3 separate regions of the Homo sapiens genome follow, and regions 1 and 2 are each linked to region 3. Evidence: fine-mapped expression QTL. A gene starts in region 3. Each other region holds a variant in brackets. All regions are shown on one strand. Distances are from middle to middle. Region 1 holds the start of LOC107986668 (a long non-coding RNA gene). Region 2 holds the start of PRR18 (proline rich 18). Region 3 holds the start of SFT2D1 (SFT2 domain containing 1).

Region 1 (8,164 bases), 83 kb after region 3:
GATTGTCACCACTGTGAAACAGAGATGGGCTGCTGGTGGTCACTGGGATGTTGCAGAGTCCTCAAGAGCAGGTTTCCCTGGGGTGGAAATCTAGCCAGGCCCTGGGCAGGCTTACCAGGGGCCTCATCTGCATCCCCTCAGAGGTCTCTGAGATAAGGAGGGATGAGGGTACCCAGGACTTCTGAGGACACCTGTGAAGAGGTCTCTGGTAGCAGGACCCCGATACCCCCAAGAACACCCTAAAGATATGCCCTTGACTTGAAGAATGGAGCCATCAGCAGTGGAAAGAACACTTTCGATGTGTGATGGTGTTAAAATACATTCCACCTTTGTTTCTTGGAACTTAAAGCAAATTCTTGTAGAGGACGGTAACTGAAAGAGCTGCCCCTTAGTTTGGAGATGGGGTCCTATCATGGTGGAATCTTCCCCAAGCCCTCCCACCTCCATTCCAGGAAGAGACAAGAGCTGGGGTGTCATCCAGCAGGAAGAATGGGGGCGCTGCTCCCCTTCTGCTTGAGCCTGAGTTGGCAGGCTTGCTGTGGCTGCGGGGATGGCAGCTGCGCCTCCTGCACAACGCAGGATCACAGCCACAGCAGTGGGGACCTAGACAGCTGGGGCCACTAGACCAGGCCACCAGACAGACAGAGGGCTGGAGAAATGCAGAGGTGGCAGCAACACACGCAGGCAGGCAGGCAGGCATCAGGGGCTGTCAGCAAGAGAACCTAAGATGCTCGTGGCAGTAGAAGTGGGCCCCTGGAGCGGCCCGGCAGTTCCTGGGTTGGTTCTGCAGACCTGAAGCTCTCCCAGGTCCTCGAGGACCTCAGGCCTTGGCCTTCCTCAGCTCTCCTCAGAGGTTTGACCACTTACTCTGTCAAATGAGGTAATGAAAGGGAACTGGCGACAGGTTTAGAATGTATTACACAATAGGCCGTGAGCGGTGGCTCACGCCTGTAATCCCAGCACTTTAGGAGGCCGAGGCAGGTGGATCATGAGGTCAGGAGTTTGAGACCAGCCTGGCTGATATGGTGAAACCCCATCTCTAGTAAAAACACAAAAATTAGATGGGAATGGTGGCGTACGCCTGTAGTCCCAGCTTCTTAGGAGGCTGAGGCAGAAGAATCACTTGAACCCAGGAGGCAGAGGTTGCAGTGAACTGAGATCATGCCACTGCACTCCAGCCTGGGTGACAGAGCAAGACTCCGTCTCAAAAAAAAAAAAAAAAACAATGTATTATACAATAATAATTATCTATACGGAAATGTTACACTCAGGGCATGGGAATCAACTCCAGAAAGAAATCCAAAGTTCTAAAAGTATAAGATATCATAAGCCTGGAATAATGAAATGTGGGAGAGGAAGTGCTGAAGAATCAGGGCCCGCTCTCACATTTACACTCTGCACACACTATGCACTAATCACAAGCAAGGCCAATCGCGAAAAGCAGGGCTTTTTGAATGAAAAAATTCGTTCATCTCAACGGTGGAGATGTTCATTTTTGCTTATTGGAGATAAAATAATATAATCAGAGACATCATAGTTAAGCTTAACAAAATAACATTATTAAAAACTTTTATACACAATGAAAAGGAACTTTGTTTTGTAAGAGACAATGAAATCTGAAAACAATAAATGTAAAAAGATGATACAGGTTTACATCCAAAATGCACACGGATTGATATGAATGTATAGGCATGAACATATAATCCACACTTTGCTAAACAAGTAGTCAAAGGATACTTACGCTTTACACATCAGCAGTAACCACGTATATTTATAGATTATGTGAAGCCTCATAACCTCTTCTTCGTGACGTAAAGGGCAGGTGTGACCATCCTCTTTCCACGCACTGGATACTGAGAAACGAGCTTGGTGCAGGCATCCTGGAAAGCAGTCTGGCTGTCATAATGGAAGCAGGGCCATTGTCCCTATGCTTTGGCTTCTTAGTGTTTTTTGAAAACTATAATTCAGGGGTATGGTGAAAATATTTGTACTAAAGCTATTTTTTTTTTTTTTTTGAGATGGAGTCTCGCTCTGTCACCCAGGCTGGAGTTCAATGGTGTGATCTCAGCTCACTGCAAGCTCTGCCTCCCGGGTTCACACCGTTCTCCTGCCTCAGCCCCCCGAACAGCTGGGACTACAGGCGCCCGCCACCACGCCTGGCTAATTTTTTTTGTATTTTTAGTAGAGACGGGGTTTCACCATGTTAGCCAGGATGGTCTCGATCTCCTGATCTCGTGATCAGCCCGCTTCGTCCTCCCAAAGTGCTGGGATTACAGGCGTGAACCACCGTGCCTGGCAGTACTAACGCTATTGATAACAGCCAAGTTAGCAATAACTCAAATGTGCAACCATTGAGAAATGCATGTATCACACTGCGTTATGCTTATCTTTTCACATAATGTATGTCTCCTGGCTAGATGAAAGTTTGGGGTTAGGAACCTTATCTCAGTTATTTTTATTTCCTTGGCATTTGATAGAATCTGGCACATAAACACTCAATCAATGTTTACCAAGAGGAAATTAGCTGAATTGAAGTAGGTAATTGGGTGTAACAAAGTTACCATAATTATGTAAATTATTATGTGCTACATGGAAATATATACACAATATAATTAAAAAATCAAAACACCAAACAAAATGTGTGCAGCAATTCCAACTAGGTAAATTATAGATGTCTATCATGAGAGAAAGCATCATTTGTAATAATGGTAAGACAAGTCTGGTTGGAATCACAGTGAGACCTTGTTCTAGTTTTTTAACAAGCCTCAGTTTGTTCACCTGCGTAATTAAATATCTACTTTGCAAGGCTGTGGTGACTATATATTCAGTTAAACCCACATGGAGTATAGAACAGAGTTTGGCTTATAATGTGTAAAGCAGATAATTGTTAAGTAATAATGAAATAGATGTTCTAAAGAAAATAGAACCCAGCATGGAGCCTGGCACTCGGTAGGTGCTCAATAAATAGAAATCACTTTTGTTATTTTTAGAAATAGAGGGGGACATAGTGATGTTCAGAGTTAATGAGTTAGTCTAAAAGTGTATTTGTGTAAAATCAACTATAATAATACATGGTAAAAACAAACAAGTCAGAGAAGGAGGGAAGTAGGATACATTTTTGAAACTGTCAAACAAAAAAATGTTTTAAAATGTATTTTTAAATCCTGCTACCCACATGTCTTAGTCCAGTTTGTGCTGCTATAAGAGAA[C/T]ACCTGAGACTGAGTAACTTACAAAGGCCAGGTATTTATTTCTCACAGTTCTGGGGCCTGATCAAGGCCCTGGCAGCTCAGGCCTAGCCTCACTGCTTCCAATATGACACCTTAGATGCCGCATCCTCCAGAGGGGAGGAACGCCATGTCCTCACATGGCAGAAAAGCAGGAGAGAGAGAGAGAGAGCAAGAGAGAACACCCACTCCCACTGGCCCTTTTTATAGGGGCATTGAACCATCATGAGGGCACAGCTCTCATAACCTAAACACCTCCCACGAGGCCCTACCTCCCAACACTTTTGCACGGGCAACTAAGTTTCTAATTCATGAATTCTGAGGGGCACATTCAGACCTTGGTACCAGGCAACCCGACCATCCAGCCTGTCTCATTGCCCTAAACTTTAGGTTTGCTGAAGTTTTACTTTTAGATTTCTAGAGTAGAAAGGGACCTTATAAATTGCTGCTGCTTATTTCATTTATACCTATTGCTTGAAAGAATTTGATGTGGCTTATAGTAAACACACACACACACAATCACACCTTTCTTTTTTTTTAAGAAAAGCAAATATAATTGAATGTTTAGGACAGAATATCAAATTATAGCTCATTCAGCAAATGTTCGCATCCTTAGCATGGTCAATCTTCATTTGTATTAGGATACAAACGTCACAATAGCCAGTGTGCATACAGCACTTGCTATGGGGCAGGCACTGTTGTAAGCACTTTGTGGGGATCAATTCAACTGGCCAGCACCCCGCTGTGGGATGGGTTCTATTGTTGTCGTTTCCAGTGTGCAGATGAGAAAAAGGAAGCACAAGAAGCTCATGTGACCTCTGCTGGGAGGCAGCAGGGCTGCCAGCTGAGCCCTATGGTCTGGTTAGAGGCCACATTCTGAAACATCACAAGTTCTAAAATGCTGAGGGGACTTTCTCAGAAAGTTCAACCGAGTTAAGGACAGAGACACATCAACAAGCATACTGTCTAAAACGTGCTGGGTGCGAAAGACACATGAACAAGCTTACTGTCTAAAACGTGCTGGGTGCGAAAGCAGCAATGTATCCGTGACCTTTTGGTGGAAATGAAGATGACGCTGCAAGACACTGGGCGGATGGGAGGCCGGGTGCTTTGCTCTCCGGGACCCTAAGTTGATAAAGAACCAAGTTTCAGGTTGGGCGCGGGAGCTCACGCTTGTAATCCCAGCACTTTGGGAGGCCAAGGCGGGTGGATCACCTGAGGTCAGGAGTTTTGAGACCAGCCTGGCCAACATGGAGAAATCCTGTCTGTACTGAAAATATAAAAATTAGCCGGGCGTGGTGCTGGGCGCCTGTAGTCTTAGTTACTAGGGAGGCTGAGGCAGAAGAATTGCTTGAACCTGGGAGGCAGAGGTTGCATGAGCCAAGATCTTGCCACTAGATTCCAGCCTGGGTGACAGAGCGAGGCTCTGTCTCAATTAAAAAAAAAAAAAAAGTTTCGAAAGCTTGGAGGAAGAAACAGCCACTTTAGTTTCCTGTCTTAGTCACCTCGGGCGGCTGCGACATGTGACCGCAAACTGGGCAGAGGACAGCCACAGAAGTTTATGTCTCACGGTTTGGGTCCAGACGTCCAGAATTGAGGCGTCGGCCTCTCCAGATAGCAAGAGATGGTGCTGTCAAGACAGTGTAAGCCCAGGAGCCCAGGTGGCTGGGCTGTGTCTGCACAGCCTTTGGATAAGGCCTCAGAAAGATCATAGCCTCAGCATTCTGCCCCACCAAGGGTGCCTTAGAGAGGTCAGGGCTGAGCCTCATGGATCGAACCAGGGAGCCCCTGAGGAGCCGAAGGGCGTTGACTCCGAGTCACCTCGGCAGGACTCAAAGATAGAAAAGGCTTGCCTCAAAAACATCGGCAGGTGAGGCCTTCGGCTCATGGAGTAGACCCAGGTGAAATCCATGAGAGACAAAGATTTTGAGGAAATCACTTTCACAGAAACACTGCCAGCCTGGGTGGGAAGGAACAGAGAGAGCACAGGATGAAAGGAGGCTGCCAGACTCCCCAGATTTTGCTGGCTGGAAGTAGGCTAAAAAGCTCCTCAGCTGCAAACATGGGCAACCTTTCCTTCCAAACAAGTGCAGTGTAGATGCGGGGACCAAGAGCCCAGACAGGGAATCCAGAAGCCAGGAGAATTCTCCCCAGCCCTGGAAACCTGACTGAGAACTCCCAACCTTTACTTTTCTGGATTTGGAATTGCTACACAGTCAAGATGCCTTTTATCTGCCATTTCCTCCCCTTGAAAACTGAAATGTCTACAGCTGCATCTGGTGCCTGCTCCACCACGGGACAGGTCACTAATCTCTTTAGCTTCCCGGGCCCATCCATGGAGAGGAATTGTGTCCCAGAACCTGAACCGAATGATTGCACCATGACCCTCCACTGACCTTTGACCTGATTTAGATGTTGACATTTCAGGCTTTGAGCTGATGCCATGAAGCTCCGAAAATCTTAGGTACCTAGAGCAGGTGAATGACTTTTGCACATGCGAGGGAGGCAGGGGGGCGTGTGGCAGACTCCCAGGTGCCTCCAGGTGTAACTGCCTTTTATGTAGTCATCTCCCCTGAGTCACAGAGAAGGACTGGTGACTGACTTCTAACCAACGGCTACAGCAAAGGTGATGGGATGTCACTCTGGGGATGACTCACATCACACAGGACTGTCTTTTGGGGAGACTCGCTGTCTCCCTCACTGGCTCTGAAGAAGCCAGCAGCTGCCACAGATCCTACAACTGAAAGGAGCTGAGTGTTACCAAACACATGCGAGCAGGGGCATGCACGCTCCCCCAGTCAGACTCCGCATGAGAACCCACCCTGGACATAACCTGGCGACCGCCTTGTGAGACCCCAGCAGGAGAGCCGGCAAGTCTGTCGCTGGACTCCCGACTCACGGATTCGTTGAGATAATAGGTGTGTGTTGTGTTACATTGCTGCAGTGGGGGAATTTCTACACAGCAATAGATAACTAATGCATGCAATTTATTCCTTTAACATAAGTAAAGAGTGTGATGCCAGTTAAGTAAAGATTTTAGTGGCCACACAATTATTGGTTTGCATCATTTTTATTAATTTGGGCATATCTGTATTAGTCAATTTCTGTACTGCTATAAGGAACTACCCGAGACTGAATAATTTATAAAGGAAAGGGGTTTAATTGGCTCACAGTATAGCATGGCTGGGGAGGCCTCAGGAAACTTACAATCATGGTGGAAGGGGAAGCAAGGCACCTTCTTCACAAGGTGGCAGGAAGGAGAAGTACCCATTGAAGGGGGGAGAGCCCCTTATAAAACCAACAGATCTCGTGAGAACTCACTATCATGAGAACAGCATGCGGGAAACTCTCCCCATGATTCATTTACCTCCACCTGGTCTCTCCCTTGATATGTGAGGATTATGGGAATTATGGGGATTACAATTTAAGATGAGATTTGGGTGGGGACATAAAGCCTAACCATATCACTATCTTCCTTGTTGTTGTAGAGATGGTGTCTTGCTATGTTGCCCAGGCAGATCTCAAATTGTGGGGCTCAAGTGATCCTCCTGTCTTGGCCTCCCAAACTGTTAGGATTACAAGTGTGGGCCACCACACCCAGCCTGAGCATATCTTTAGAACATTTATAGCCCAGTTCACTAATAAAGAGATAAATGATACGACTTTAACACAATTTTTCATGTAGTAGTAATTTTTCCATATATTTTAGTCCTCAAGTTTTAGTTGTTACAATTTAGTAGATGAAACTTAACATAAAGCTTCATGACTGTAGTTCCAGCTACTCAGGAGGATGAGGTGGGAGGACAGCTTAAGTCCAAGAGCCCAGGAGCCTAGGGGTTCATGGCTGCAGTGAGCTCTGATCGTGACACTGCACTCTAGCCTGGATGACAGAGAGAGACGTGTCTATAAAAAATTTGTTTTAATTAAAAAAATAAGAAAGACTTGTAGGATGCAAAAGTATTACTTATTATGCTTTCATTTTTTACCGTTTGCCAGACAGCTCCCTGCACTTTGCAGACTTTACCTTATTCCCTGAGCAATCCTGGGAGGAAGGTGTTATTACCAAGTCTAATCTACAGTTGAAACAACTGAGGCTTGGAGAATGTAGTAACTTGCCCAAAGGATAGAGCTTGATTTGAGCCCAAGTTAGATTCACCCAAAGCCTATGTCCTTTCCATATATTATGCTATTTATTTACTAAGTTTTTAAGCTTTAGAGGAAAAGATTATTTCCCCTCAGTTTTACTCATTTATTCACTTTCAGCAACACATTTTTAAAATGAAGATCTTTACATCTTTTTAAATTATCATAATTATGTTGAACACGAGACAATATAAAGGCAAGCATTTTCTTTTGTTCTTTCAGCTAATATTTTAGAGTTTATTAGTTAAATGTCATATAAATACAAAACTAATCACTTTTATATTGCTAGTATTTCTAGTTGTTTGCTTCTCTCTCTTCCTTCCTTCCTTTTTTTTTTTTTTTTTTTTTTTTGAGACAGGGTCTCACTCTGTCGCCCAGGTTAGAGCTCAGTGGCATAATCATAGCTCACGCAGTCTCGACCCCCTGAACTCAAAAGATCTTCCCCCTCAGCCTCCCAAGTAGCTGGGACCACAGGCACATGCCACCACATCTGAATAATTTTCTGAATTAAAAAAATTTTTTCTTGTAGAGATGGAGTGTCACAATGTTGCCAAGGCTGGTCTGGAACTCCTGGGCTCAAGTGATCCTCCCGCCTGGGCCTCCAAAAGTGTTGGGATTACAGGTATGAGCCAGCCAGCTACGTTATTTCTTATTGTTTCTATAAATATTTGTGTCACAAAGAACCTTGCATTTTATATTTATTCTGGATAAGAATGAGCTTCAATTAAATTAATGTTTACTGAGCAATTGCATTAATTCAACTTATTAAAGTCAAATTCAACTTTAATAAGTAAATT
Region 2 (8,180 bases), 37 kb after region 3:
TTCTAAAACCTGGAATAAAACATATTGAGGAGGAGGTTTCAGTATCTTAGGACCTCACCTGTCAAGCCGATTAACAGCCTGAGCCCACCGGCAGAGACAGGCTGGCAGGGATGGAGGGAAAGTGCCTGTGAGCTGGGAGGCTTGTTTCAGAGCTGTATTGGGGTGGCTTGGGAGGTGCTGGTAGAGATGACAGGGCCCAAACCTGTCACCCCAACCCAAGCTCTGGTGAGAAGTGTTTCCCACCACCTGCCAGGTTTCCTTGACGCTCCCATGTATCCACAGCGCAGTTCTCTGAGGCCACCAACAGTCAACAAGGGGAGGCGTTGCTGCTGCCTCGGAGACTGAGGCGGCTGGGGGAGGGCCATGCTGTCCTGCTGTGACTGTTGGCACAGGGCACATTTGTGTTTACCCACAGTTGAATGTGCTCTGGAGCTAACCTGGGGCCGTAACCATCACACACCTGGTTTCCATCAGAAAAGTGTATCTGATGGAAAGTACTTTGTGGAGATCTAAGCAGCTGATGATTATCCTTAAGTAATGCAGGGACTGCACACATGAAATGTTGACTTTTTGATCCGTCACTTTGCAATTGTTCAATTATTTATTAAACAAACATTTGAATATTGTAGGATGTCTTCATGTGTCTACGACTAGAATGTAAATTGACAGTGAAGATTTATCTCATTAATTCTGAATCTCTGCTACAGTGATAAATATATTGCTTTGCTCATAAGAATTATTAAAGGGACTTGATGTCTAATATTTGCCATGTAATCAGCATTATATAGCTGAAACTGAACTATTTTGCCTGTTCATAGATACTTAGGTTTTGAATTTGAAAGTGACTCCTCAAGGGGTGGCATGAACACTATGTAAGATTCACTGAGGGTCATTTCTCCCCTCTCAGCTCCAGCCCGCTTTTCTCTGTGAAGCAGGATGTGTCCGGGGCCGCAGAGCTGCATCTACTGGCGGTGCCTTTCCCGCCGTCTCGAAGGCACGGAGAGGCTACAGGGGATTTTCTCTGAAACGTGCAGGGCCTCCACCTGTGACTCCGGAAGGCTGCCGGCTCCCCCAGGGGAATGCTCCTGGCTTTCGACGGACTACATTAACCTCGGACCACCGGAGCGCCAGCTGGGGGAGCCCCGGGATGCCTGGCGCGCGCTCCGCCCTCCGCTGTCCTGGCACTTTGCTCCCATTCAACAGTCGGTCGTGACACCAGCCGGGCACAGCCCGGGGCCTGGCAGGGCCGCGTCCTTAGCGAGCGCGCTGGGCTCCTCCTCCTGCCGGCCCGGCCCGCGTCTCAGCTGTGGGGACCCGGGGGCGCCGCGACTCGCCCACAGTCGGACGGCGGGAGGCGGTTCCTGCAGGGTCCAGTCCCGGGAGCACCCCCAGGAGGAGGGGAGGGTGGGAGCGCCTCTCTTTGAGTCCCCGGGTTTGGTCGCTGGGATGTGAGGAAGCCGGAGAGGCCGCGGCTGGACGCAGGTGGGTGTGGAGGGGCCGCCCGGACTGCGGGGACCCGCTCCGCGCACAGTGGCTGAGCGCCCGCCTCTCTTTCCAGGGGCTGAGGATCCGGCGGCTCGGCTGCACTATGCCCTTCCCGCCCATGCCGCCGCCGCCCGCCCCCGCCCCGGGGGCCCAAGCCGCGCGCCAGTTACCCCGGAGGCCCTGCGCCGCGGGGGACAAGAAGAAGAGGCCCCCACAGCGGCCCGAGGGGCTCCTCTCCAGCTCCTGGCCCTCCGCCACGCTCAAGAGGCCGCCGGCCCGGCGCGGCCCCGGCCTGGACAGGACGCAGCCGCCGGCCCCTCCGGGCGTCTCCCCCCAGGCCTTGCCCAGCCGCGCGCGGGCCCCAGCCACGTGCGCCCCGCCCCGGCCGGCAGGCTCCGGCCACAGCCCAGCGAGGACCACCTATGCGGCGACCTCGGCGGGGACGGGGACCACCGCCGCGGGCACCTCCTCGGGGGCGGGGCCTTGTCCAGACTCCGCTGCGCGCTTCTGCCTGAATCTCACCCCCGAGGCCGTCCTGGTCATCCAGAAGCGTCATCTGGAGAAGCAGCTGCTGGCGCGGCCCCGCAGGCCCTTCCCCTCACCCTCGGCCGAACCCAGGCGCCTACTCGCCCCGTGTCTCCCGGCTAGGGCCGCGGGCCCGCGGAGGGGCGGCCCCGCCAGCGACCCCGACGCACCCCCCACCGCCGGCCAGGGCCGCCGCGCGCCTCCGCCCGGCGCCCAGCTGCTGCACGGCGGCCTGCAGGTTCCCCAGCTCAGCCCGCGGCCCGGGGCCCTGCGGCCGATGCTCAAGGTGTCGCTGCTCAACGAGCGGCACAGGTACGACGACGTGGAGTACGAGGAGGAGCCAGAGGCGGTGGACGAGGGCCTGGTACGCAAGTGCACGGAGTGGCTGCGCGGCGTGGAGTCCGCGGCTGCCGCGCGGGGCCGGGCGGGGGCCCTGGACTCACGGCGGCACCTGAGCACGCTGTGAGCCCAGCGGGCCTGCGGGGACAGGCCAGGCCTGATCCCACCTCACTTCCTGCACGCGCCACTCCGCCTAGGGGCCCTCGGGGGAGACCGCAGGCTCCTCTGGCCGCCAGCGCCCACTTTCGGGACACCAGTGCGCAAGCTGGCCCACGTGGGGCGCAGCCAGACTCGCCCGACGGCCACGGCCCCCCTCCTGCCCTCGCCAGCCGGCAGCCCGGGCCTTTCTCGTTCACACCGGTGGTATCTACCCCAGATGCCTGCCTCTGCCCCCACTCTGGCCTCCTCTTGGCATCGCCGAGCATCCATGCAGTTCGTGGGGAATTAAGCAACTGAGAAAATGCCTCTTGGTGCCCCGACCCCCAGGGTTCGTCTAGGTCCCAGAGACCCTCTGCCTGGAGGCGGGCCTTCCCCAGGGCTACATCTGCACGCCCCGTGGTGTCACCCTCAGCCGGCGCCGGGCACCCTGGACAGTGCGGTGGGCGATGGCCCAGGTGGGTGGCCGCGACGGTGGCCTCCTGCAGAGCTGGGACCCGGTCCTACATTCGTGATTTTGTTTTCTCCCAAGTCAGAAAAATGTTGAGGGTATTAGACATCCCTGAAACTCAGTTAACCGAATTTCCAGTCTCCAAAGCGGAAGGGTAGGCATCGCCAGGCGCTGGTGAGCCCTGGTCAATGAGCGCTTCCATGGAAACCGCTCGGCTGATTACATTTTTTCTGTGTATTATTTGAATAGAGAGTAAAGCTCCTCCGCTGTTTCGTAACCATATCCTTTCCCCCGCTAACTGGAGGCTGATTTCTACATATTTCTTCCATGTATCTGAGAATATCTAACTAGAAGGATGAGAAGGAAATAAAATGTTATAATCAGATAAGGCTGGTTATAAAAGAGTAATGTATTACCTCAATTTTTGACTGACTTTGTAAAAGCCAATAACTGGTTTAATGTTTATCTTGATAGACTTTAAATGTATCAAGTCTTAATTGTATTTTAAATTGAAGCCTTACATTTTTAAAACAGATTTTGTATTTTTCTTGTGGAGGTCTTTGCTCTAATAACACACACACACTGTCTCTCTCTCTCTCTCTCTCTAATTCTAGGCACACATTTAGTTAGATGTGAAGCATTTAATTCATTGGGAGCTAGGTCAGCTGCCAGATGAGTTGCAAAAACAGAAAAAAACCTACCCATTGAATAACTTCTTTGAATTTGGAGATAAGTTTTCTTTTACTTAAAATGAATATATTAATTCTAGAGGGGCAAAACTAGCAATGCTTATGCAAGTGACGGTGCTGCTCTTGTTCCACCCCCACCCAGATGGTCTCTGAGTGCGCCGTCCTGGGCAGGGCACACGGTCTGGAGCTGAGAGGGTGGAGCAAGAGTGCACTGACTCCGAGCCGAGGGCAGGAGTGGCTCAACTTGGTCTCGTCTTGCACTTAGTGCAAATACCAATAATTAAGATGCCTAGACTTCTGCCCTTGGTCACAGTAACAACAACATTTTGAAGACTTTTCCCTGGTGGCATCCTAGAGGGACCGACTTTCTGCAGCCTCTGTCTTCCAAGCTGAGCTTCTGCTGCAGTGTGGCTGTCACTGCACCTGTGTGTCTCCCTGACGTCCCTGTCAGCTGCTTCATTTTGATTTCCTTTCTTCTCCCGCCCTTTCTGTAGGCTCTGTCCCAGCATCTCCTGTTCTTAACTGGCCACAATACAACACTAAGCGCATTTTTAGTAATTTGTATTTATTAAATAGAGTTTGTGGGCCTTGTTCTCTACTTTAAAAGCAGATGAGTGGAACATTTATGTTTCCCTGGTCAATGAGCTTCAATAAAAAACAA[A/G]CAGAAAAAAGGTTTTACACGTGACACATGATATCTTTTCATTGCTGTTAAGGACATTTTGAGAAAGTTTTCTAAGTCGCTATGCTCCAATTTCTTAATGCTTAAATAAAAGAGAAATTCAGTGACTTGTGATTCTTTTTGAGGGGGACACTGAAAACTGGTCAGGAAGAGACTACTGAGGGATTTACAATTCACATGACATGATTTCTTCATAGTGGCACTCAACCTAAGGTTCTGGGATTTCCAGGAGTTGAAAAAGGTTTGCTGGTTTTAATCACTACTAGAATTTTTAAAAATCACTACCAGGATTTTTAAGATAGTCAAATACTGTAAGGTTATTTGGCAATGACATTTGACCTTTTATGGGGCCACAAATCCCCGTGAAAGCTATATTCCAAAAGGACTCCTAAAACCGTGTACCACATAGCAACAAAACATTGCATATAATTTGCATATATTTTAAGAAGCTCATGGGTCCCAGGTTAAGGACTCCTCCTATATACACTCACTAGAATATTTTTTTTATTTTGCCTAAAGTAATTTCATACTGGTAGGTCATACCAATCAGAAATTAAAGGGTCAATTTGAATAATTGCTAGACTATTAGATTACTATTATATTATTATCAAATTCTCCCATAACTGTAATATCTCATAGCAGGGACTGAGGAGGACTTCCATCCCAGGAGAGAAAATTGGGTGCCACTATGTAAGTAAAAGTGTTGCCAGTTCCAAAGATTGAGCATATATGTGACTTAATTCCCTCTATTTAGAGAATAGCTGGCACTTTAAGATAGGTTTTTATGTTGATCTGCCTTATTTCTAGAAAAGTGGATGCCAAGTTGTCAGAACCATTAGTTGTGGGGTTTCCCTGGAAATCACGCGGTTCAGTTTAGGGTGGGTGATCTGTGGGATCTCTGCTTTTCAGCCAACCGTGGTATATCATTCAAAGAAAGTCTGAAAATAACAGTCTCTCTAGTAAGCAAGGACACTTTTGCATCAACAGAAATGCACACACAGGCCTTTGTGACCTCTGGGAAACCTGGATTGATGTGGTTCCCCAGCATGGCCTCTGTCCAGATGCTGCCTGGGTAAGGGCACAGCTGCTCCCATGGCCTGTAGTGGAGGCCCCTTGGTCTGGCTTGGAGTCAGAGCGCCCCTCAGCATTGTGTGGGAGAAGGTACCGCACCATGGTTCAAGGTGGGTTTTGGTGCCCTAGAGGCTGGAGTTGCCACACTGATGCTGTCATTTATCCACATCTTTCATTAAACTTCCATGTCTGTTTCCTCTTCTGTCTGTGGGGATAGTTGAACATAGGTGACCCTGGTGAGGATTATGAGGCAATATGCGAAGCGTTCCCCCAGCTCAAAGTTAACTGTAATTTTTACTATTTCAAAAAAGTCTTTACTACTCAAAAAACTCTGGCACTCTTGTGCACATTCAAAACCTCCCTAGTTACAGCATTCTGAGATTTTTATCTTTAACCATTTAATGCACACCTACACTTTTATATTCCTGAGGAATTAAAAAATTAAAATGTCTATTGTGTTTTGCCTTCTTATCTCACACTTAATTATTATGTTATGAGCACAAAATTTAGCTCTGAGCTTCCTGGTAGCAGAGACAAAGTTTAAAGTAAGAGTCATATAATCTCAATATCTAATAACAAGAAACACTTCTTGGAGAAAATTGTTATGTGTGTATTTGGATTATATACAACACAATGGATAGTAGTATCCTTAAATGCAGCTTCTCGAAGATGCCTAAGTGTTCTTGTTGTTTTTTTATTTTTTGAAACGGAGTCTCACTCTGTCACCCAGGCTGGAGTGCAGTGGCGTGATCTCGGCTCACTGCAAGCTCTGCCTCCTGGGTTCACACCATTCTCCTGCTTCAGCCTCCCCAGTAGCTGGGACTACAGGTGTCAGCCACCATGCCCGGCTAATTTTTTTGTATTTTCAGTAGAGACAGAGTTTCACTGTGTTAGCCAGGATGGTCTCGATCTCCTGACCTCGTGATCCACCCTCCTCGGCCTCCCAAAGTGCTGGGATTACAGGCATGAGCCACTGCGCCCGGCCAAAGATGCCTAAATGTTCTTTACATTACTATTAGCTCTTGATGAAAGCCAGTGGGGTCATTATCAGCGACATCCTTGCTGGAACTGGACCATCCCACCTTATGGAGGTGGTGTGGATGGAAACCTACAAAATACAGTAGGGAATCTTCAGGAAGCAGTTTTAGATCTGCTCAAATATTTAGCAAGTACTGCCCTAGTACCTCAGACAATTCGACATCAGTCCTTAAATGTTTGGTCTCGTGACCTCTTTCTAGTCTCAAAAATTATTGAAGGGAAAAAAAGTATTGAGGGAAGCCAAAGAACCTTCTTCAGTGTAGGTTTATCTATCAGTACTTCCTGTATCAGAACTAAGAGACCCTAGAACAATCAAACTGCTGGTTTCATCCATACCATGTTGGCTCCTAGTGCCTGCTGTAAAGGCTGGGTTAGCTGCATCTGAAATGGATGGGAAGTGTTTTAAGAAACAGATATTCCAGACCTCAGACCTAGGGATACTAATTCAGTAGATCTGGGAAAGGGCTGATGTGCCACCAGGTTGGGAGCCATTGCTATATGGCAAGAAATACACGACCAGGCTCAGGAAATACTTCAGGCAGATTTTATTGAAGGTGGATTTAACCAACTGTGTCCTCTCACAAGAGACCCTGCAATGCGACTCTGTCAATATAGAGTCTCCTTTTCTAGGTAGTCATGTCTCCCTTCCTGGCCATGTGTTTTCACGGCAGGGAGGGTAGGATGCAATGACCAAAAATAACTAAAGTGACCCCATGTCATCAGCCTAGGCACCGTCCAGCTCATAGAATTGGGAGTGCTGGCCACTCCACTTCTGGGGGGCCTTGCCCCACATCTCATTCATCCGGAGTCCCCGCCCTTGATGACTGTGTCCTAGGTCTTCCCTCGTCTACCTCTGTCAGCATAATTATGAGAGCCTCCCAGATACAAGCTTCTACAACACAGCACATGCCACTCCCGATGCCACTCCTGATGCCACTCCTGATGCCATCCTGTCACCAGAGCGGGAGGCAGGCTCTGAGAACTGCAGATGCATGGGCGTGTCCTGAAAAGCCAACCCCAGACAGTGCATGGAGCTCAACACCTGATTTTACGAGGAAATTATAACAAGTATCTGTTGAGTATTTCACTTTGAGCAGGATAGTATGCCAGCAGGCCCAGAATTGTTCAGTTATTATTCATTCAAAAAATATTTACCCTGCCTCTACAGGATGAAGGGTATCTGAGACACAAAACTAACTGGAACTGTTCCTTACGTAATCTAATGGGTCAGCATGTCCAAAGGTGTATCCAGGTCTGCCGAGAGCAATGACTTTGGTTTGAGGACAGTCAATATTGAGCGGTTCTTTAGGACAGCCATTGATCTGTATTTGTTTACTTGGGCCAATTTAACAGAATACCACACACTGGGCGGCTTAAAAAACAGATACTTATTTTCTTATAGTTCTGGAGGCTGGATGTTCAGAATCAAGATGCCGGCAAGGCTAGTCCCTGGTGAGGCCTCTTTCCTAGCTTGCAGACGGCCGCCTCCCACACTGCGTCCTCATAGAGCCTTGGTATCTCTTCCTTCTCCTACAGGGATGCCAGTTCTGTTGGATCACAGCCCTCACGTATGTGCCCGTTTAACCTTAAAATTACCTCCTTAAAGGCACTCTCTGCAAATATAGTCACAGTGCATTTAGAGCTTTGATATATTAATATTAATTTGGGGGTGTTGGGGACAAGATCCAACCCAGAACGTGGTCTGTGGTTTCAGTTGCTTTTTAAGGCCACTTATGGAATATGATAG
Region 3 (8,180 bases):
AAGGAACCAAAGATCCAAGGACTTTCTTGCAAGTGACTTTCTTGCAGTTTCATAGCTGGTTAGGAGCTGAGCAAATGGCAATGAATTAACAAACCCTTGTCCCAAGCACCCTTCTGTGACATCAAGAGTCCCCTCTCACTACCCACATTTCCATCTAGGCATGTTCATGGAGGCAGAGGGCAGTTAAGGGGTAGATTTTCTTTATTTGCATCAAGGCCATTTGTTAATCACTGCAGAAGAATTGGTTGCAAACAAAAAATGGAAGCTTTATACTTTTTCCAGTCTATGCCCCTGCCTTACCTAGCCCAGACACTACATCTGAGGAGTTGAGATTTACAAACATTTGGGAAGTTTTTGCCCTAGAGTTTTCTGTACATTTTAGTAGATAAAGGGGATATTCCAATAAGGAGAAGGTATGTGTTTCGGAAAGTACTTTTCTACTCCTAACAACAAACGCCTCAGAATTTGAATTTGAAGTCCCACTGCCCTGGGGGACAAAGGTCCTCTGAGTCAGAAGCCACTAACCAGATGATCCAGCAGCAGGACTGAGGGTACCAGGGCAAGCACCAGCCCATGCCATCACCCACACAGAGCCCCAGGTATGCTTGACCATTGAGGGCCAGGAGGTTAACTGTTTCCTGGACACTGGTGCGGTCTTCTCAGTCTTACTCTCCTGTCCTGGACAATTGTCCTCCAGATCTGTCACTATCTGAGGGGTCCTAGGACAGGCAGTCACTTGATACTTCTCCCAGCCACTAAGTTGTGACTGGGGAAATTTACTCTTTTCACATGCCTTTCTAATTACGCCCGAAAGCCCCACTCCTTTGTTAGGGAGAGACATTCTAGCAAAAGCAGGGGCCATTATACACTAGAATTAGAAGGAAAAAGGTTAAATATACAGACTCTAAGCATGCTTACCTAGTCCTCCAAGCCCACGCAGCAATATGGAGAGAAAGGGAATTCCTAACTTCCGAGGGAACACCTATCAAACATGAGGAAGCCATTAGGCCCCCCAAATTCTCTTTACCTCTGAATCTACGTCCTCTGATCCCTGCCTAAAGATAATTTTGTGGGGAAGAGGATTTGCTTGTGTCTCTCCAGGTGACACTCAGGTGTCTGTGTGGGTGCCCACCAACCATCTGAAGATCTATCACGAGCCACGGCATCTAGTGGACCCACATGTAGAGTACAGTGCGAATTGAAGGTTTGAAAAGCCTCGATTTGCTTTCTCTATGCCTTCTGTTAATCAGAAAAGGCCTGTTTCTCATTATCAGTGGCCTCCCGGCTACAGCCACAAAAGTTTTTGCTTCTGTTTCAGTAGATTTACTAACGTGGGGGTGAGGGTATGCTTGTGTTTTTGCAGGAGATGAACAAACCGTGTGGATACCCTCAAGATGTGTACGACCATGGAATGGGAGACTGGAGGTACCCATGGATCCCAACCTTGGACCGGGTTCCCCCAGTGTGAGCCATGAGCCAGTTGAATCTGAATGCGAAGAAGGAATGAGGACCGACCGGAGTCACGATGCTTAACGGGCCAATGCTTTCTGACTCAGCTCCTCTCTACCCTGAATATGAGAGACCCTAACAGTTAGACAGGAATATCGTCACCCCTATTCAGCATGAAGAAGTTACAGAAGATGGACCTTCATCCTTCTGCAACCCCTAGGATTAAGGGTCTTCTTGTAAAAGGGAAAGGGGAGATATGTGGGAAGCATTCAAACCAGAGCCATGCTAGTAATAATGATAGCTAGTAATAATGATATCTTCTCTTTTACAATAAAGAGAAGGGGGGCATGCTGGGAAAAAGCTGAGTGTTGGGGGGAAACTGAGGCAGGGCTTGCATAATGTCCTCTGGAATGTGTCTAGACTTGCTGGCTCCTTGCTTCTAGCCTTCCTAGGCTCCTAGGCACCTATTCCCATTATCTCAAGTAGCAGAACATGTTCCATATAAATGCTAAACTGTCACAGCTGTAAATCATGTGCTTAATGCAACATGACCTCCACATTCTCACCACCTGTTTCTTAGTTGGATTACCAATAAACACTGTGGGCTCCCAGAGCTCGGGGCCTTCACAGCCTCCGCAATAGCAATGGCCCCTGTTGTCCCACATTTCTCTCTCAAACTTTTTTCTCAATCTTTTGACTCTGCTGGACTTTGTCACTCCCACAACCTGGTGTTGGGTCTGATCACCCCAACAATTTTGTGCATGTCCTTGTGTTCAGGAGTCATTGGCTCTTGAAAAAACTATGTGGCCAGGAAGCAGGAAGAGCTAGGAAGTAAGGTTTTTTTGTTTGTTTTTTGAGACAGAGTCTCACTCTGTTGCCCAGGATGGAGTGCAAACGAGCGACCTCAGCTCACTGCAACCTCCACCTCCTGGGTTCAAGCGATTCTCCTGTCTCAGCTTCCCAAGTAGTTGGGACTACAGGCGCCCGCCACCATGCCCAACTAATTTTTGTATTTTTGGTAGAGACGGGGTTTCACCATATTGTCCAGGCTGGTCTCAAACTCCTGACCTTGTGACCCACCCGCCTTTGCCTCCCAAAGTGCTGGGATTACAGGAGTGAGCCACCGCGCTCGGCCTATACTTGAAAATCTTGAAAGCAGTTATGTCAGATATGTGAACCAGAGAAGCCCATCTTGAATAGCGGCTGGGTAAAATGAGGTTGAGACCCACTGAGCTGCATTCCCAGACAGTTAAGTCATTCTAAGACACAGGATAAGATAGAAGGTCAGCACAAGATACAGATCATAAAGACCTTGCTGATGAAACAGACTGCAGTAAAGAAACCGGCCAAATCCCACCAAAACCAAGGTAACAAGAGAGACCTCTGGTCGTTCTCATTGCTACACTCCCACTAGCGCCATGGCAGTTTACAAATGCCATGGCAATATCACGAAGTTAGCCTATATGGTCTAAAAAGGGGAGGCATGAATCCACCCCTTGTTTAGCATATCATCAAGAAATAACCATAAAAATGGGCAACCAGCAGCCCTGGTAATAGACAGCCCTGCTCTGCCTATGGAGTAGCTATTCTTTTGTCCTTCTACTTTTTTTTTTTTTTTTTGAGACGGAGTCTCGCTCTGTCGCCCAGGCTGGAGTGCAGGGGCGCGATCTCGGCTCACTGCAAGCTCCGCCTCCCGGGTTCAAGCAATTCTCTGCCTCAGACTACCGATGTTCCTCTACTTTTTAAATAAACTTGTTTTCACTTGCCCTGAATTCTTTTTGCGCAAGATCCAAGAACCCTCTTTTGGGGTATGGATCCGGACCCCTTTCCCGTAACACTTACGGACATACTCTCTTATTCAACAGAAACATAGTTTTATTCTATAGATTTTACAATCTATTTTCTGACCTTTTAAAGTTAAGGACATAAGGATAAGACTTCTCATATTAGTATGAACAGGCCACATAGAAATATCTTCTGCCTAAAGGAAAAGGATGCTGAGCATTGGACCGTTTCATCACAAGAAGGCGCGACTTGCTTTCCTAGGGTTCCTGTGGTATTTGTTTTTATCTAATTGAGTTTAGATAAAATCTCTACTGAGGCAGTAGGATGGACAATGAAACTTTTTGAGGATCCACCTTTTAACTGAAAGATTTTAGGGAGGAAATGGAGTGGGCAAAGTAATCAAAAGAACAGGCATTCTCATTACCATCTTACCAAGCCTAGAAGCAAACAGAAGAGCAAAACCTATCACTTAATGACTTCTGGAGACCATATTAGACAGGCAGCCCTGATTTTTAATCTCCTTTCTTAGCATGGTGGAAAATGAGAGAGAGAAAAATGCCACTTCCCCATTTCTTAGTGTTTGTTCATCCAGCACGAGCCGGAGAACAGTAAACGCTTGTTCAATGGTTTCACTGTTCACACAAAACTGGAAAAATGGGTTGCATTAGCTATTCCTTTTATAAATAAGATTTCACTCTTTCAAACTCCTAGCTGACCAGTGAACTGAGTAAAGAAATAGCTCTCACAAGGGCAAAGGAGTGAGGCAGCCTCTTGCTATTTCTCCTGAGACGGTCTGAAATACAGCTCCTCGCTTTAATCCTGAGGCAGGTGTTTGTGTCTCCGGATGAGGACACCCAGCTGGGAAGGCTAGCGACGCCCCCAGGGCCACCTCATGGGTGGCAGGGCGCTCTTCGGAGCACGGCCACCTGCCCGCAGGAGCCCTCCGCTCTCCGATTCCAGGCGAGGGGAGGCGCATTCGGGGCCTCGACTTCTGGGAACCCGGGGTGCCGCGGACCCGCCCAGCAAGGCCCCTCGCGGGGCCCGGAGGACGCCAAGTGCAGGGTTCAGTGGTCGTGCCCCAGTCGGGTCTACACTCAATGGCTGTGCGCCAGCTGTGGGCAGGGGGTCCACACCCGCGCTGTGTCCCCGCGCGTTACCACGGCGCACCTCGCGGACAGTGGGAAGGGATAGCCCCACCATCAGCGCCCACTCCGCGGACTTCACGGACCACTACCGGGTCCGAGAGAAAGGCTGGTGAGCATGCGCGCATTGCTACGGCGGCCGCGCTGACGCACAGGAAGCGGGCGGGACCGGACTTCCGGCTGGTCTGTGGGGTTTCGGGTTCGGGGTTTCCTGGTGGGCGTCAGGGGCAGGCAACAGAGTGGCGGCCGCTACGGCCCTGTAACAGGGCCATGGAGAAGCTGCGGCGAGTCCTGAGCGGCCAGGACGACGAGGAGCAGGGCCTGACTGCGCAGGTAGCGAACTTGCGCCCTCGTCCAGTCCCGGGGCTGCCCGCTGGCCCCGGCCGCACTGAGGACCGGCCGAGCGGGTGGGGTGGGTGCGAGGCCGGGGGTCTGGGACTCCTCTGCCCGGCTGGTTGATTTAGGAGGGCTCCGCCTGCTTCCTGGGTAGAATTTGAGAACTTTCCAGTTTTCCATGCGGTCTACTTAAACCCACTTTGAGGCCCCCCCCCGACTCTCCCATCTGGCCTTCTGACTTAGGAATCCGCTAACGTCTGCCCTCGCTTTCCCAAATAATCCATCGCTCCCACGTACTATTTGGTTTTCTGAGCCTGGTGCGGGGTCTGGCCTCGGGCTGTGCAGCGTAAGTAGCTATGCAGGGCATTTATCCTGCAAGCTGCAGTGAGCCGAGACCCTAAAGCTTGTTGCATCTGTTTGTCTTTGGAGGTAAAGGTGGTGTTATGTGTGTGTTTGCTGGGGGGTGGTCTTTTGGAAATAGGGAGACTGGAGGAAAAATAAACAGGACATTGGTAAGTGAAATAATATTGAATTAAAATTTTTCTGTTAAGGCAGTGAGCCCTGGTAAGAGATTTTTTTTTTTTTCTTAATAAAAGCCCTTGTGTCTGCGCCTTACCAGCGAGACTTGATAAGGGTTACTTCCTCCAGCAAGAAGGTTAAAAGTAGCAGTGGAGCAGGAACTGCGGTGTAAGTTTTTTTGTTATTGCATGCGATTATATTGCACGTTATTGTGTGCTGTCGCAGAAGTTGGACGTTTAAAATTGAATTGTATTTCATAAGGATCTTCTATTTGTCTCTCCTGACTTCCTTGTCATTATACTTACTCAGCACTTGGTGTGGGTAGAGTTCTGGGCTACAGTTTTGGGTTCAGAGAGTGTAAGACAAGTATCTGTTCTCATTGCACTCTGTAACTCTGTATATTACCACAGCCACATGTGGCCAATGAATTTTTTTTTTTTTTTTTTTTAGATGGAGTCTTGCTTTGTCGCTCAGGCCTGGAGTGCAGTGGCGTGATCTCGACTCGCTGCAACCTCTGCCTCCCGGGTTCAAGCAATTCTCCTGCCTCAGCCTCCTGAGTAGCTGGGATTACAGGCACCTGCCACCATGCCCTGCTAATTATTTTGTGTTTTTAGTAGAGATGGGGGTTTCACCATGTTGGTCAGGCTGGTCTCGAACTCCTGACCTCAAGTGATCCGCCCACCTTGACCTCCCAAAGTGCTTGGATGACAGGCTTGAGCCACTGCGCCTGGAGCAATTAAATTTAAATTAATTAAAATTAAATAAAATTTAACATTCAGTTCCTTAGTCACAGCAACCACATTTCACATGTTCAGTAGGCACATGTGGTTAAAGGCTACTGTATTAAACAGCGCAGATACAGAACATTTGCATTGCAGAAAGTTCTATTGGACAGTGCTACTCTAAACTTTGGAGATGCAAAGGTAATATCACTTATCTTGAGCCCACTGTCTAGAGGGGAGAAAGATATGTGGAGAAGTAATCAATCAAAGATTAGAGTGACTGGCTGTATAGACAAGTGCTGTGAGTTCAGAGGAGGTGATCGTTCATTAACAAATATTCAAGTTCCTGCATATGTTTGACATTGTTCAAGATGCAGGTGTTAATAACAGTGACCAGTGCAAATACCTCTTTCACATGGAACTTAAATTTTAATTGGAGGAAACAGTGAATAAACAAGTATATAATGTGTCAGACAGCCACAGAAAAAGTCAGAGCAGGTTGAGGAGGTTGGGGTTGCCATATTACTTAGATAAGGCCTCCCTGCCAGGGAGTCATGTGAGCACAGCTCAGAAGAGCTGCTGGGATGTCTGAGCATCCTGTGAATAAAAGCCTCCAAGGCAGATACAGAGTCCCAAGTGGTGTGTGGTCAGCATGTTCAGGGCCAGTAAGGAGGCCAGAGGGGCTCTAGCAGCGGGGCAGAGAAGAGGGACAATTGTAGAAGAAAAGGTGAAGCAGGAAGGGGGATTCTCAATTGTGAGGGTTCTCATAGGCCATAGAAAGGATTTTAGCTTTACTCTGAGTGTGATAGGAAGCCTTTGGGTTTAGAGCAGAGTGGTGGTGTGACCGACTTGGATTTTAAAGGATCACTCTGGCAGCTCTGTGGAGAACAAACTGTAGAGGCAATGTTAGAAGCCCAGAGACTGGGCTGGAGACAAGTACAGTTGTCCTGGCAAGAGATGACTGTGGCTCAAATCAGTGATAGAAGTGGTTTAAAGAGCAAAAAAGCCTGTTTAAAAAACAAAAAAGTGGTCAGATTCTGTAAATGGTCTGAGTGTACAGCCAGCAGGCCACACTGTTGACGGATTGGATGTGTGAGAGTGGGAGGAGGCAAGGATGCCTCATGGCATTCGACCTGAGCATCTGGAGAGGTGGAGTTGCCATTAAGTGACTGTGGGAGGAGCAGGTTCAGGGAGGAAAATCATTTCAGTGTGGACGTGAAGTCTGAGATCCAGGTAGCATCCAAGTGGAGATGTGAGGAAAGCAGTTGGACGTAACACTGTAGAGTTTGTGGGAGGAAATAGGAGAGAGATGAGATCGTCAAGATGAGGTCCAAGGTTTGACCTCTGGTTTTCTCTAGGTGTGTAGAAGTTTAGAGGATGAGCAGAAGCCGGCAAAGACAGCTGAGAGGCGTGGCGAGAGAAGGAGGAGGAGAACCAAGAGAGAAGGATGCCCCAGAAAGTGAGGGAAGAGAGTGCTTTAGGAAGGGGATGGGACCCAGTACTGTTGATGGGTCTCAGAAGTTAAGAGCAGATTACCCGTGGAGGTTATCAGTTGTCACTTCCACGAGAGCAGTCTTGGTGGCTGGATGGGGTCAGAGGCCTGATTGAAGTCAGGGGAGAATAGAAAGAAGATGGAGATGGTATGGCCATCTCAGTGATTTTTCCTGTGGAGCAAAGAAGTGGGTGGTAGTTGAAGGATGCAGTGGGGTCGGGGAACATGTCATTTTCCCAAGGAAAATACTGGATGTTTCTGTGCATTGGGAATGGTCCAGGAAAGGGGAAAATTATGGTGCAGGCAAGAGGGAATTGTTGCTAGGGGGCTATTGAGGAGTGACTTGGAAAGCAGGTTTCTCTAGGGAGGAGGAAGGGGCAGGAAGTGGCAGTGAGGAGGGCAGACACCTAGCTCACTGCCTGTCCAAGTGGTACAGGATTCACAGGGGAGAGCCCTGGTCCTGGAGACTAAATTTCAAACCTAGCCGGAAGGTGAGAGGATCATCAGAGAAGAGGGTGAGGACATAGGGAGGTTTGCTGTTGGTTTTTGGAGATGGGTAGGAGATGAGATGGGATTAAAGGCGCACAGACCTGAATGGGGTGAGGGATGACCTGAGAGTGTTGCACGTCTTGTGCAGCAAGACGTAACCAGGATGGCGGGCACATTGGAATTGGGTCTTGACAGGGATGGTTCTAGGCCAGTTGAGGAGTTGGGCGAGGCAGTGAAGGTCATAGG

Evidence for each region.
Region 1: its variant is fine-mapped to the expression of SFT2D1 in whole blood (INTERVAL, PIP 0.91).
Region 2: its variant is fine-mapped to the expression of SFT2D1 in whole blood (TOPMed, PIP above 0.99).

Annotation. Positions count from the first base shown.
Region 1 is chr6:166,255,681-166,263,844 of GRCh38, reverse strand. LOC101929297 (a long non-coding RNA gene) reads right to left here. Exons shown (of 5, transcript NR_125862.1): 5 at 6,898-7,104. LOC107986668 (a long non-coding RNA gene) reads left to right here and starts at 4,814. Exons shown (of 2, transcript XR_001744463.3): 1 at 4,814-6,142. RefSeq lists enhancers at 4,553-5,420, 4,633-5,832. The variant C/T (reference allele first, on the strand shown) is at 3,210.
Region 2 is chr6:166,301,551-166,309,730 of GRCh38, reverse strand. PRR18 (proline rich 18) reads left to right here and starts at 1,339. Exons shown (of 1, transcript NM_175922.4): 1 at 1,339-4,431. The coding sequence starts at 1,589. The coding sequence ends at 2,476. LOC107986669 (a long non-coding RNA gene) reads right to left here and starts at 2,183. Exons shown (of 3, transcript XR_001744464.2): 1 at 2,008-2,183; 2 at 1-9. RefSeq lists an enhancer at 907-1,186 and a silencer at 1,257-1,856. The variant A/G (reference allele first, on the strand shown) is at 4,307.
Region 3 is chr6:166,338,948-166,347,127 of GRCh38, reverse strand. SFT2D1 (SFT2 domain containing 1) reads left to right here and starts at 4,583. Exons shown (of 8, transcript NM_145169.3): 1 at 4,583-4,709. The coding sequence starts at 4,647. It overlaps LOC100289495 (a long non-coding RNA gene), which reads right to left and starts at 4,497. Exons shown (of 2, transcript NR_040022.1): 1 at 3,981-4,497. RefSeq lists an enhancer at 3,758-4,651 and a silencer at 4,713-4,872.